3 linked regions of the Homo sapiens genome follow. The protein of the gene in region 3 interacts with the protein of the main gene of each other region in a pairwise test. Each region holds a gene or a part of one and is shown on either strand. Other genes may lie near its edges.

What was found.
Region 1: the proteins of JRK (region 3) and ZNF343 interact in binary tests that used the Homo sapiens proteins (3 or more experiments, as listed by UniProt).
Region 2: the proteins of JRK (region 3) and FAM161A interact in binary tests that used the Homo sapiens proteins (3 or more experiments, as listed by UniProt).

What each region holds. Positions count from the first base shown.
Region 1 is NC_000020.11:2,481,276-2,485,027, reverse strand, and holds the end of ZNF343 (zinc finger protein 343), read left to right. Parts: intron 1-371; coding exon 372-1,867; 3' UTR 1,868-3,211; downstream 3,212-3,752. UniProt on the Homo sapiens protein: May be involved in transcriptional regulation.
Region 2 is NC_000002.12:61,827,186-61,830,194, forward strand, and holds part of FAM161A (protein FAM161A), read right to left. Parts: intron 74-3,009; coding exon 1-73. UniProt on the Homo sapiens protein: Involved in ciliogenesis.
Region 3 is NC_000008.11:142,659,936-142,663,588, forward strand, and holds part of JRK (jerky protein homolog), read right to left. Parts: 3' UTR 1-3,653. UniProt on the Homo sapiens protein: May bind DNA.

The sequences.
Region 1 (3,752 bases), on a different chromosome or scaffold from region 3:
AGTCATGAAGGAGATTTCCACATGTGTCATAGAGACCACTATCTCCAAGCAGAACAAAGAGCTGTGGACAGTATATACCAATGTGAATGTCTATGGCTTAGGAGAAGGCTAACTATGATTGAAGCTGTTTACAGAGCAGAATACTCACTTGAGAGGTTCCTGGTTTCTCAAGATATTTTTGTTATGGATTTTCTGGATTGCAATAGAAAATGTGATGGAATGTAAAGGAATCATTGTTCAGAAGCAAATTGTGTTATACTTATATTATCAATTATAGGCATGGCAGTAAAACATTCTCTGTCCTAAGACAAGGCAGAACAACTCAGCAGCCCTACTTATGGCTACTCTAACAGAAAACTTTCATTCTTCAGCAGAACCAAAGCCAGAAATCTACACTTGTTCCTCCTGCCTTCTGGCCTTCTCCTGTCAGCAGTTCCTCAGTCAACATGTACTTCAGATCTTCCTGGGCTTATGTGCAGAAAATCACTTCCATCCAGGGAATTCTAGCCCAGGGCATTGGAAACAGCAGGGGCAGCAGTATTCCCATGTAAGCTGTTGGTTTGAAAATGCAGAAGGTCAGGAGAGAGGAGGTGGCTCCAAACCCTGGTCTGCAAGGACAGAGGAGAGAGAAACCTCAAGGGCATTCCCCAGCCCACTCCAAAGACAGTCAGCAAGTCCTAGAAAAGGCAACATGGTGGTAGAAACAGAGCCCAGCTCAGCCCAAAGACCAAACCCTGTGCAGCTAGACAAAGGCTTGAAGGAATTAGAAACCTTGAGATTTGGAGCAATCAACTGTAGAGAGTATGAACCGGACCATAACCTGGAATCAAACTTTATTACAAACCCGAGGACCCTCTTAGGGAAGAAGCCCTACATTTGCAGTGATTGTGGGCGAAGCTTTAAAGATAGATCAACCCTCATCAGACACCATCGTATACACTCGATGGAGAAGCCTTATGTGTGCAGTGAGTGCGGGCGAGGTTTTAGCCAGAAGTCCAACCTCAGCAGACACCAGAGAACACATTCAGAAGAGAAGCCTTATTTGTGCAGGGAGTGTGGGCAAAGCTTTAGAAGTAAGTCCATCCTCAATAGACATCAGTGGACTCACTCAGAGGAGAAGCCCTATGTTTGCAGCGAGTGTGGGCGAGGCTTTAGCGAGAAGTCATCCTTCATCAGACACCAGAGGACACACTCCGGTGAGAAACCCTATGTGTGCCTGGAGTGTGGACGAAGCTTTTGTGATAAGTCAACCCTCAGAAAACACCAGAGGATACACTCAGGGGAGAAGCCTTATGTTTGCAGGGAGTGTGGGCGAGGCTTTAGCCAGAACTCAGATCTCATCAAACACCAGAGGACACACTTGGATGAGAAGCCTTATGTTTGCAGGGAGTGTGGGCGAGGCTTTTGTGACAAGTCAACCCTCATCATACACGAGCGGACGCACTCTGGAGAGAAGCCTTATGTGTGTGGTGAGTGTGGCCGAGGCTTTAGTCGGAAATCACTCCTCCTTGTCCACCAGAGGACACACTCAGGGGAGAAGCATTATGTCTGCAGGGAGTGTAGGCGAGGTTTTAGCCAGAAGTCAAATCTCATCAGACACCAGAGGACGCACTCAAATGAGAAGCCTTATATTTGCAGGGAATGTGGGCGAGGCTTTTGTGACAAGTCAACCCTCATTGTACATGAGAGGACACACTCAGGAGAGAAGCCTTACGTGTGCAGTGAGTGTGGCCGAGGCTTTAGCCGGAAATCACTCCTCCTTGTCCACCAGAGGACACACTCAGGGGAGAAGCATTATGTTTGTAGGGAGTGTGGGCGAGGCTTTAGTCATAAGTCAAATCTCATCAGACACCAGAGGACACACTGACGGGAGAAACCTGTGTATGCAGGGGTCATGAACAAGACCTGAGTGACCAGTCAAGCCTCATGTTACCCCAGAGAGACACATGGGGAGTAGACCCTGTGTACACAGATTGTGAGTGAAGTTCCAGAGATGTGTCAGCCCTTATCAGGCATGGGAGGGACACGTTCAGGAGAGGAGCCTTATGAGTATAGAGTACGGGCAACTGTAGCCATCAGTCAGCCTTGAGCATGCACAAAAGGACACACTTAGGAGAGAAGTTTATGTGTAGGGACTGTGGGAAGGCTTTAGCAATAATCAACATTTACCAGACATCCAATGACAGCCTCAGGGGAAAGCACCCTTGTCTGGGGAGTGTTGGGGAGCATCAGTAAAAGAATGGACACTCAGGCACAGAGTGGCCCTCAGGAAGGAGGTCTTTGTTTGTAGGATGTATGGGCAAAGCTTTTGTGATCACACACCACAGGGAGAATCTGCATGTGGGGACACTGTGGAGCTCTGCCCAGATGACCTTTTCAGGGGTAACACCCCAGCTGCTTGAGAGAACAGTGTTGCTGCTGGCAGAGATGCATTCCAGAGATGCACTCCGCTCTGGAACTCACTCTCAGCCACAGGGAGCTGCATGCACCACAGGGGCAATGCACCTTTGCAGGGGTACCTTCTGGCCCCAACCCTTGACTCAACGGGGACAACTCCAGAAGGTCATTCCAGATCCAGAGATCCCCATCGAACTGAAGGATCACTGGGTTGCAGACACATTGCAGGTCAGCTTCTTCCTCTGCCCAGTCCTGCCCTCACTCCCCAGTGAATCCTCAATTTTCTGTCTCGTTGTCTGTCCAGATAATTGATTCTAAGACATGTTAGGTATATAAGGAGTGTAGATAAGGCTTCAGCCATGAGTCACCCCGCAGTAAGCCCCAGAGTATATTGAATAGAAATTCTGCATGTGTGGGGAGAATGGACAAGGACTTAGGAAAAAGTCCTCATCAAAGAACAGCTTTTTTGGGACAAGCTTTACATGGGTGGGGAGGGAAAATGTGAAACACATTAGCAATAAGTTAAACCTCATCTTGTACTAAAGGAGGACACACTCAGGGAGAAGACCTCTGTGGGCAGGGCTTGTGGGTGGAGCTTCATCCCGATGTCACTCCTCAACTGACTTAGGAGGACAGTCTTGCTACCCCAAGTCACTACCTCACTCACCTCTGAGGGATTTTCAGGAAATGTCTTGACTCCCCCATGTACTCTGTATGTGAGCGAAGATGGCAGTAACTGTTAAATAAGCATTCTTTTCTACTTCTTGGAATCAGATGAAATAAAAAAGCAGGCTTTATTTAAGTAATCAAAAAATGATCAACTTGTTTTATTTTCATATACCAGTTCTTTCCCGTGTTTTCTTATCCCTTTGTTTTAGTTCAAAATTTCTTCAATAAGTTCAGGCTGTGTAGCTTGGCCACTCATCTGACTGAAAGGGTGCAAGGAATTCAAATTCACAGTCAGGGTTTCCTGCATAAATTCAACCCTTGAGAATCAATCTAATAGATTTTTTTGGAGAATTTGATCCTTTTCATGTGGAGGAGTGATTAGGTTCTAGAGACAGGCCAGTTGCAGGGAGGGGATTTTCCAGGTCTCCAGGGCTGGGCTGCCTCTTCTCCAGACTGATCACTTTCTTCAGCTTCTGTGAAAGCTTCCTTCCCTAGGTATTCTCTCTCTCTCTTTGTGTGTTTCTCTTTCTCTCCCCATCTTGCCTTCTCTCTTTTTCTTTCTTTCTGCAGGTGTCTTTGCTGAATACTTCTCTATTCCACTGAATTTTTGCAGTCCTTAATGATCTGCTCATGTCCTCCAGTTCCAGGGACCCTTTAACCACATCCCCTCTGCAGCCTTCCAGATT
Region 2 (3,009 bases), on a different chromosome or scaffold from region 3:
CAAACTCATCAGATATTCCTAGTGCTTTTAGGGTATTAGAATAATGCTTTTCTGCTGCCATTCTTGCATTTTTCTATAGGAAAGACAAACCTTTTTAGACGAGAACAGAAGACTTTAAATTTTCATCAAAAATGTATAGATTAGGCCAGGCGCGGTGGCTCACGCCTGTAATCCCAGTGCTTTGGGAGGCCGAGACGGGTGGATCACGAGGTCAGGAGATCAAGACCATCCTGGCTAACACGGTGAAACCCCGTCTCTACTAAAAATACAAAAAATTAGCCGGGCGTGGTGGTGGCCGCCTGTAGTCCCAGCTACTCGGGAGGCTGAGGCAGGAGAATGGCGTGAACCTGGGAGGCGGAGCTTGCAGTGAGCCGAGATCGCGCCACTGTACTCCAGCCTGGGTGACAGAACAAGACTCTGTCTCAAAAAAAAAAAAAAAAAAAATATGGATTAAAAGTACTGGTGATAATTAAGTTCAGCAGTCACAGTTGTTTGAAAATCTGCATACCCTATGACCAACAATTACACTCCTAGGAATATAACCAGAGAAGCTCCCACATATGAGTCCCAAGGGAGGACATGTTCAAGAATGTTCAGGATAGTACTGTCCTTCAATAACCCCAAATGGGAAATCACCCAAATATCTATTAGTAGCAGAATGGATAAATAAATTGTGGTCTATTCCTATAATGGAGTGAAACAAAGCAAGGAAAATGAATGAACTACAGTTACATGCCACAACATGGATAGATCTCACAAATATAATACTGAGCAAAAGAAGCAAAGCACTGACAAGTACATATTGTATGATCTATATAAAGTTCAGAAATGGGCAAAACAACTATATTGTTTGAGGATAGGTACACACACTGTAAAATTGCAAAGAAAAACAAGGAAGTACTTATCCTGAAAGTTAGAATGGTGGTTACCTCTTGGGGAGAGGTAGAGGGCTGTGATCTGCAATGGCACATAGGGTTTTTGGGGTGCTGGCAATGGTCTATTTGTTAACATGGGTGGTGGCCACATTAGATTGATCTATAATTATTTTTTATATTGTACCTAGGTTTTATATACTTTTATGACTGTATAAAGATATCTGAAAAAAAAAAAAAGATTTCATGCAATAATTGTTGTCAGAGGATTCTTTTTCCTTTTTTTTTTGAAAAAGGGTCTTGCTCTGTCACCCAGGCTGGAGTGCAGTGGTGCAAACACAACTCACTGCAGCCTCAACCTGCTGGGCTCAAGCGATCCTCCCACCTCAGCCTCTGGAGTAGCTGGGACCATAGGCGCGTGCCACCATGCCCAGCTAATTTTTGTATTTTTTGTAGGACGGGGCGTCACTATGTTGTCCAGGATGGCCTTGAATTCCTGGGTTTAAGTGATCCACCGGCCTTGGCCTCCCAAAGTGCTGGGATTACAGGCATGAGCCATGGCACCCAGCCAATTTCTTTTATTTTATGTATCTACTGTAATTTTTACTCTTTATAAGCCATATCCCCAATCCATTAAAGATGATAAAAGCACCAGTGTTGTAATCTTTACTCTGTGGAGGAAGCAAGGGATATAACAAAAAGAATATGAATTTAGAACTGGGTTCAAATCTGTAGAATGTCACTTCCCGGCTTTAAGATCTGTTGGAATTGTGATGACCCTCTCATCACAGCTCCAGAGATGGCAGGCTTTATGGAGCCACATAGTGACTGGGTTCACACTAGTGCCTCCACTTTAGCCCATTTTAGCTCCCATGAGTGGATCTGAACTGTTAGAGGGCCAAGAATTGCCCTCTGGACCTCCAACTAAAGCTAAGACCTCCAAGTAAAGCAAGCATTCCTAATACTAGGAATGGCCCAGTTCCAATGTACCAATGGCATTCATACTGGGAAGGGTGTGGAGGAGTACCCAGTCTAACCCCCATATTTAATAAAGAAACCAAGTCTCCCCCGGCCCCCGCCTCAAAGGTGAAATTGACTAAGGTCACAAGGCTAGTGAGTGGTAGAACCAAGTCTCTTGACCATTTCCTAGGTCTTTTATATTACATCATGCTACTTTCTCTAAGTGGTAGTGGTCGTCAAGAGTTTGAAGGTGACCTAAAGCCTGACTTGAGCAACGTAGTTGTCAGATATTTGCCAAATCTAGTATAATGAGGGGCCATGGAGTCTAGTGTTACACAGGAGAACCTGAAATAGCAAGGACTGATTACAATAGATAAAACTATCACCAGGGCATTTCCTGATACTCTGGAAAACTGAAAAAGAAACACTGCTGCTAAAACGCACTCACTGTGAATAACAATAATATTTTTTAGAAAAGTAAGTAAAAACCCATCCAGAGTCTGTGAATATCAAAAGACAAGTCTTGGGGAGCTGAAAGGAAGGGCAAAATGAGAAATAAGAACTATACCCTAAAGACTGCAGAGAAGAATAAAGAAACCCCAAACCTAGCTCTGAATGCATTACCAACAGTATATTCTGACTTCAGCAAATTAAATATATAAGACATTAAAAAGACATTAGTCAAAATTTGTGCCAGTAAGCCTTCATCTGACTTTGGTTTAAAATTCAATTTAACATCTTCTCAGTTAATTAATCCTGTGATTTCCAAGAAACAGGACAACATAGTTTATTCTGTAAAGAATCACAGGCATATTGTGTTAGGGAATCACTCAGCAGCAGCGAGACCACAATTAACTCCTATAAATGGGCAAAGCAAATAGCTGCAAGCAAATTTATTAAAAACCAGCTGTTAATTAGCAGCAATAGTTCCAGCAAAATAGACTGCAGCAAAAAATGTACTAAAAAAAAAAAGCAATGGCGATTCACTGCCATGGTAACTCTGTTTATACTTTTTGAGAAGTTAATGAGAAGACCCCTTGATATCATTCATTGAAAATGAGAATAAATGGAATTGGTGAGAATGGATGATTGTCCCTGTTATAAAGGCTTATTAATTGTCTACCCAGGGTTAACATTTTAGTAGGGGAATGAAAATGGTAAGGCGAAGGTATAATGA
Region 3 (3,653 bases):
ATGTGCAAGGTCTGAGGGTCCATGTGTAGAAGCAGAGGCCAGAGCTGACACCACATGGGCAAAGGAGTGGGCGTGTGGGGCTGGGAGCTGGGGCTCATGTGGGAGGCTGGTGGCTGCCATGGCTGCAGCTCCTGGCCCTGCGGACAGCCAGGCCTGGGGTCTACAAGAGCTGGGCAGGGAAGAGGACAAACAAGGTCTCACAGGTCCATTCTCCCCAGCCTCCCAGTAGGCAGCTGAGTCCAACGCAGTGCCCGAGAGCTCAGCCCTTGTCAAGGAGAGTCCTCGAACCCAGAGGGGGCTGGGTAAGCAGCAGAAGTGCAGAAGCCCTGCCCAGGCCCTGCCTCCCAGGCCACCACCCACCCCTCACGGCTGCCACACCCACCAGCCCATGACTGTCCACATCCTGACCCCTACCTACCTCATGACCTCCCCGACCCTGATCTCCACACCTGACCCCAAAGCACATTTTGTTATTTTTTGTTTTTAGAGATTAGGTCTCTCACTCTGTCACCCAGGCTGGAGTGCAGAGGCCATAACTCACTGCAGCCTCAAACTCCTGGGCTTGGGGATCCTCCCGCCTCGGCCTCCTGAGTAGCTGGGGTTACAGGCACATGCCACCACACCTGGCTCATTTTCTTTTACTTTCTGTAGAGATGGGGTCTCCCTATGTTGCCCAGGCTGGTTTCAAACTCCTGAACTAAAGTGATCCTCCTGCCGTGGCCTTCCAGAGTACTGGGATTTCAGGCAGAAGCCACCACACCCGGATCCCCAATAAGCACATTTATGTGGGGCGTGAGGTGAGGTCCCTGAGGTGCAGTGTGGACGGGTCTTGATTTGTCCCAAGTTGTCGCTGCCCTGTGCCACAGCCTCCCAAGAATGGATGCAGTCTACACCTTCTGCAAACCCCTGCCTCAAACCGTGTCCCTCCACAAGCACATCCAGCCACTGGGACCCTGAACCTCCTCCAAATGGACTTTAACTGGGGACAACTGATGACAGTCCTCCAACCCCAGCGAGCTGGGGAAGCCGTGGGCAGGGGCTGCGACTTCCTTTCTTCCAATCAACTCCACCACTAGCAATCAATCACTTGGCCCACTGGATAAGAACAGTGGCCTGCGACGTCAGGGGCAGTCCAGGTGCTCTCCATCGCATGCTCAGCCATGGCTGAGCACGAATGAAGCATATGGAAGTCACGCACAGACAGGCCCAGGGCAAGGTCTGCTCTAGACCCTCCTATGCAGGAGACAGACAACTTCCAGGACAGCGTGCCTGGGGTGCTCGCAGAAGGCCAGGCTGGCACAGGCAGGACAGGTGTTCTGTAAACCAACCCCAACGTAGAAGGGGCTGAAAGACCACCTACCCATCCTAACCCCTGAATTCACCATGCCACCCTGAAAGTATGGCCTCTCCTGGGCATCCCGAGGGATGGGAGCTCCCAGAGTGGAGGCTGCCTGTCCCGAGTGAGGACACAGGAGCGCCCTCAGGCCTGAGCACTCAGGGGTGCCACCCCAAAGATGAAGGCAGTGGTGGAAAGAGGTTCTATTAGCAGGCTGGAAGCAGCCACAGAGGTCCCAAACCATATGACGCAGCACCTGCTACCCCACGAGCCACTGGAAAACTGAGGCTGCAACTTGCAGGGGCACTGTGAGAAGACAGGGAGTGGCTCCAGCCTGGTGCTCACAGATAAAACGCGGAGGCATTTAAACAGGACCAGAGACTTTCTCGCTCTGCTCTGGCAAGCTCCAGGGCTTCCCAGGGGCCTCAGCAGCCCCAGAAACAGAGTGAAGAGACACAGCCTCACAGAGCTGTGCTGTGGTGTCTGGTACAGCGGGGCTCCACCTGAGAGGGCTTGGGGAAAAAGATTCTGAGGCTAAAACATTCAACCACTTGAGCTTCTGAGACGGGTCAGGAAGTGAAAACAAAGTGCTCGGAGGACACGGCAGTCTCCATAAAGCGTTCTGGGGGACAGGACCGAGGCAAGAGGTATGCACCAGGCAGCTGGGCCCAGCAGCTCAGAGATGAGTACGCTCTGGGCTCCCTAAAAACCTCACTCCAGCAGCGAGCCCAGGTGAGGAGGGGCTGCAGGAGGAGCAGGGCCCGAGTCCCCTGGGTGGCACAAGGGATTCCAGCCACAAGGGCTGCACCTAGAGTCAGGCTCCAGGCCTTGCTGCAGTTGGTCTGGAAGAGGGGCACCCTGAGGACACAGCCACTCACTGGGGACAAGCGCCTACCCATCAGCCCAGCACAGTCAGCACAAGAGCAGATCAAGAACGGGAAGAGCTCAGGTCCTGAAGAGCTACAGTCTGACAGGGACAAGCCATGTCCAGAGGACTCAGGAGAGCCAGCCAGGAGCTCGGCCAGCTGGCCTGCCCATGCCCTCCCCAGCTCCACCCACCCAGGATGTCCTACTGTTTCAGAGCCCTCGGGACATGTTCTAACCTCCTGTGTTGCCTCAAGCAGCTGCAATCCAGCAGTCTTGGTTAAGAGGCTCTATTAGGAGTGACACGTGAGCCCAGAAATGGCACAAAGTACATGATGTGCAGAAGTTCCCCAGACAATGAAGCAAACAGTGCGGGTGACACCACAAAGACAATGGGACACAAATGGGAACTGGGACTGTCGTTCAGCACCGAGATCTTTAAAAACTATTTGGCTTTTATAATCTTCACACATGCATTCAAAGCAAGAAACACACACTTCCAGGACATAGATAGGGCTCTGTCAGCAATGACTTTTGCCCCTGTATCTACAGAGATGTGAAAGTACGAGAAACCACAGCGAGCCAAATCCTCTCCTTCATGAGAACAGAGGTTTCAGTGGAATCAACAGCAGACGCTGGAATGCAAACTACGTGCTGACTCGGCCAAATGATATGAATTTAAGAGAGGAAAAGAATTCAAGGGCAAAGCACTGAAAATAACATAGCAAGAAAAACCTATTTAGGCCGAGTGCTGTGGCTCACACCTGTAATCCCAGCACTTTAGAAGGATGAGGAAGGAGGATCGCTTGAGGCCAAGAGTTCAAGACCAGCCTGGGCAACACAGTGAGACCCTGTCTCTACAAAAAAAATAAAAAGGCGCGGTGGTGCGTGCCTCTAGTCCCAGCTACTCAGGAGGCTGGGGCGGGAGGATCACTCAAGCCAGGGAGGTCGAGGCTGCAGTGAGCTGGGATCACACCACTTCACTCCAGCCTGGTCAACAGAGTGAGACCCTGCCTCAAGAAAAGAAAAGGACAATGCACCTATTTTATGCTCGCTGAAAGACGAGGCTAATCACTGTGGACACAGGGCGTTCTGGAATCTCAGCTGCAGGCAGTGAGTGTTGCCCGTGAAATGGAGATGCCGCAAAGCAACTACAGACATGGAGAAAATAACCACATCCTCTTACAACCGCCTCTGTGAAAACTGACCAGGACAGACAACTCCTCCCCAAAAGTATTACTAACGTGCTAACAGCTGGGGATAAGAGCACACATACTGCTAGAAATCTAAGCAGCCTGTTTTACTGTTTTCAGTGACTTACGTGCAAACCTAAGACTAATCTCTGAATGTCTGATCAAGACGTATTCATGTAAAGGCCATAAGTATGAAATTCTGGGCAACATGGTACATTGGACTCTGAGCCAAAATGCCAAAATACCACACAGGGTCCGTG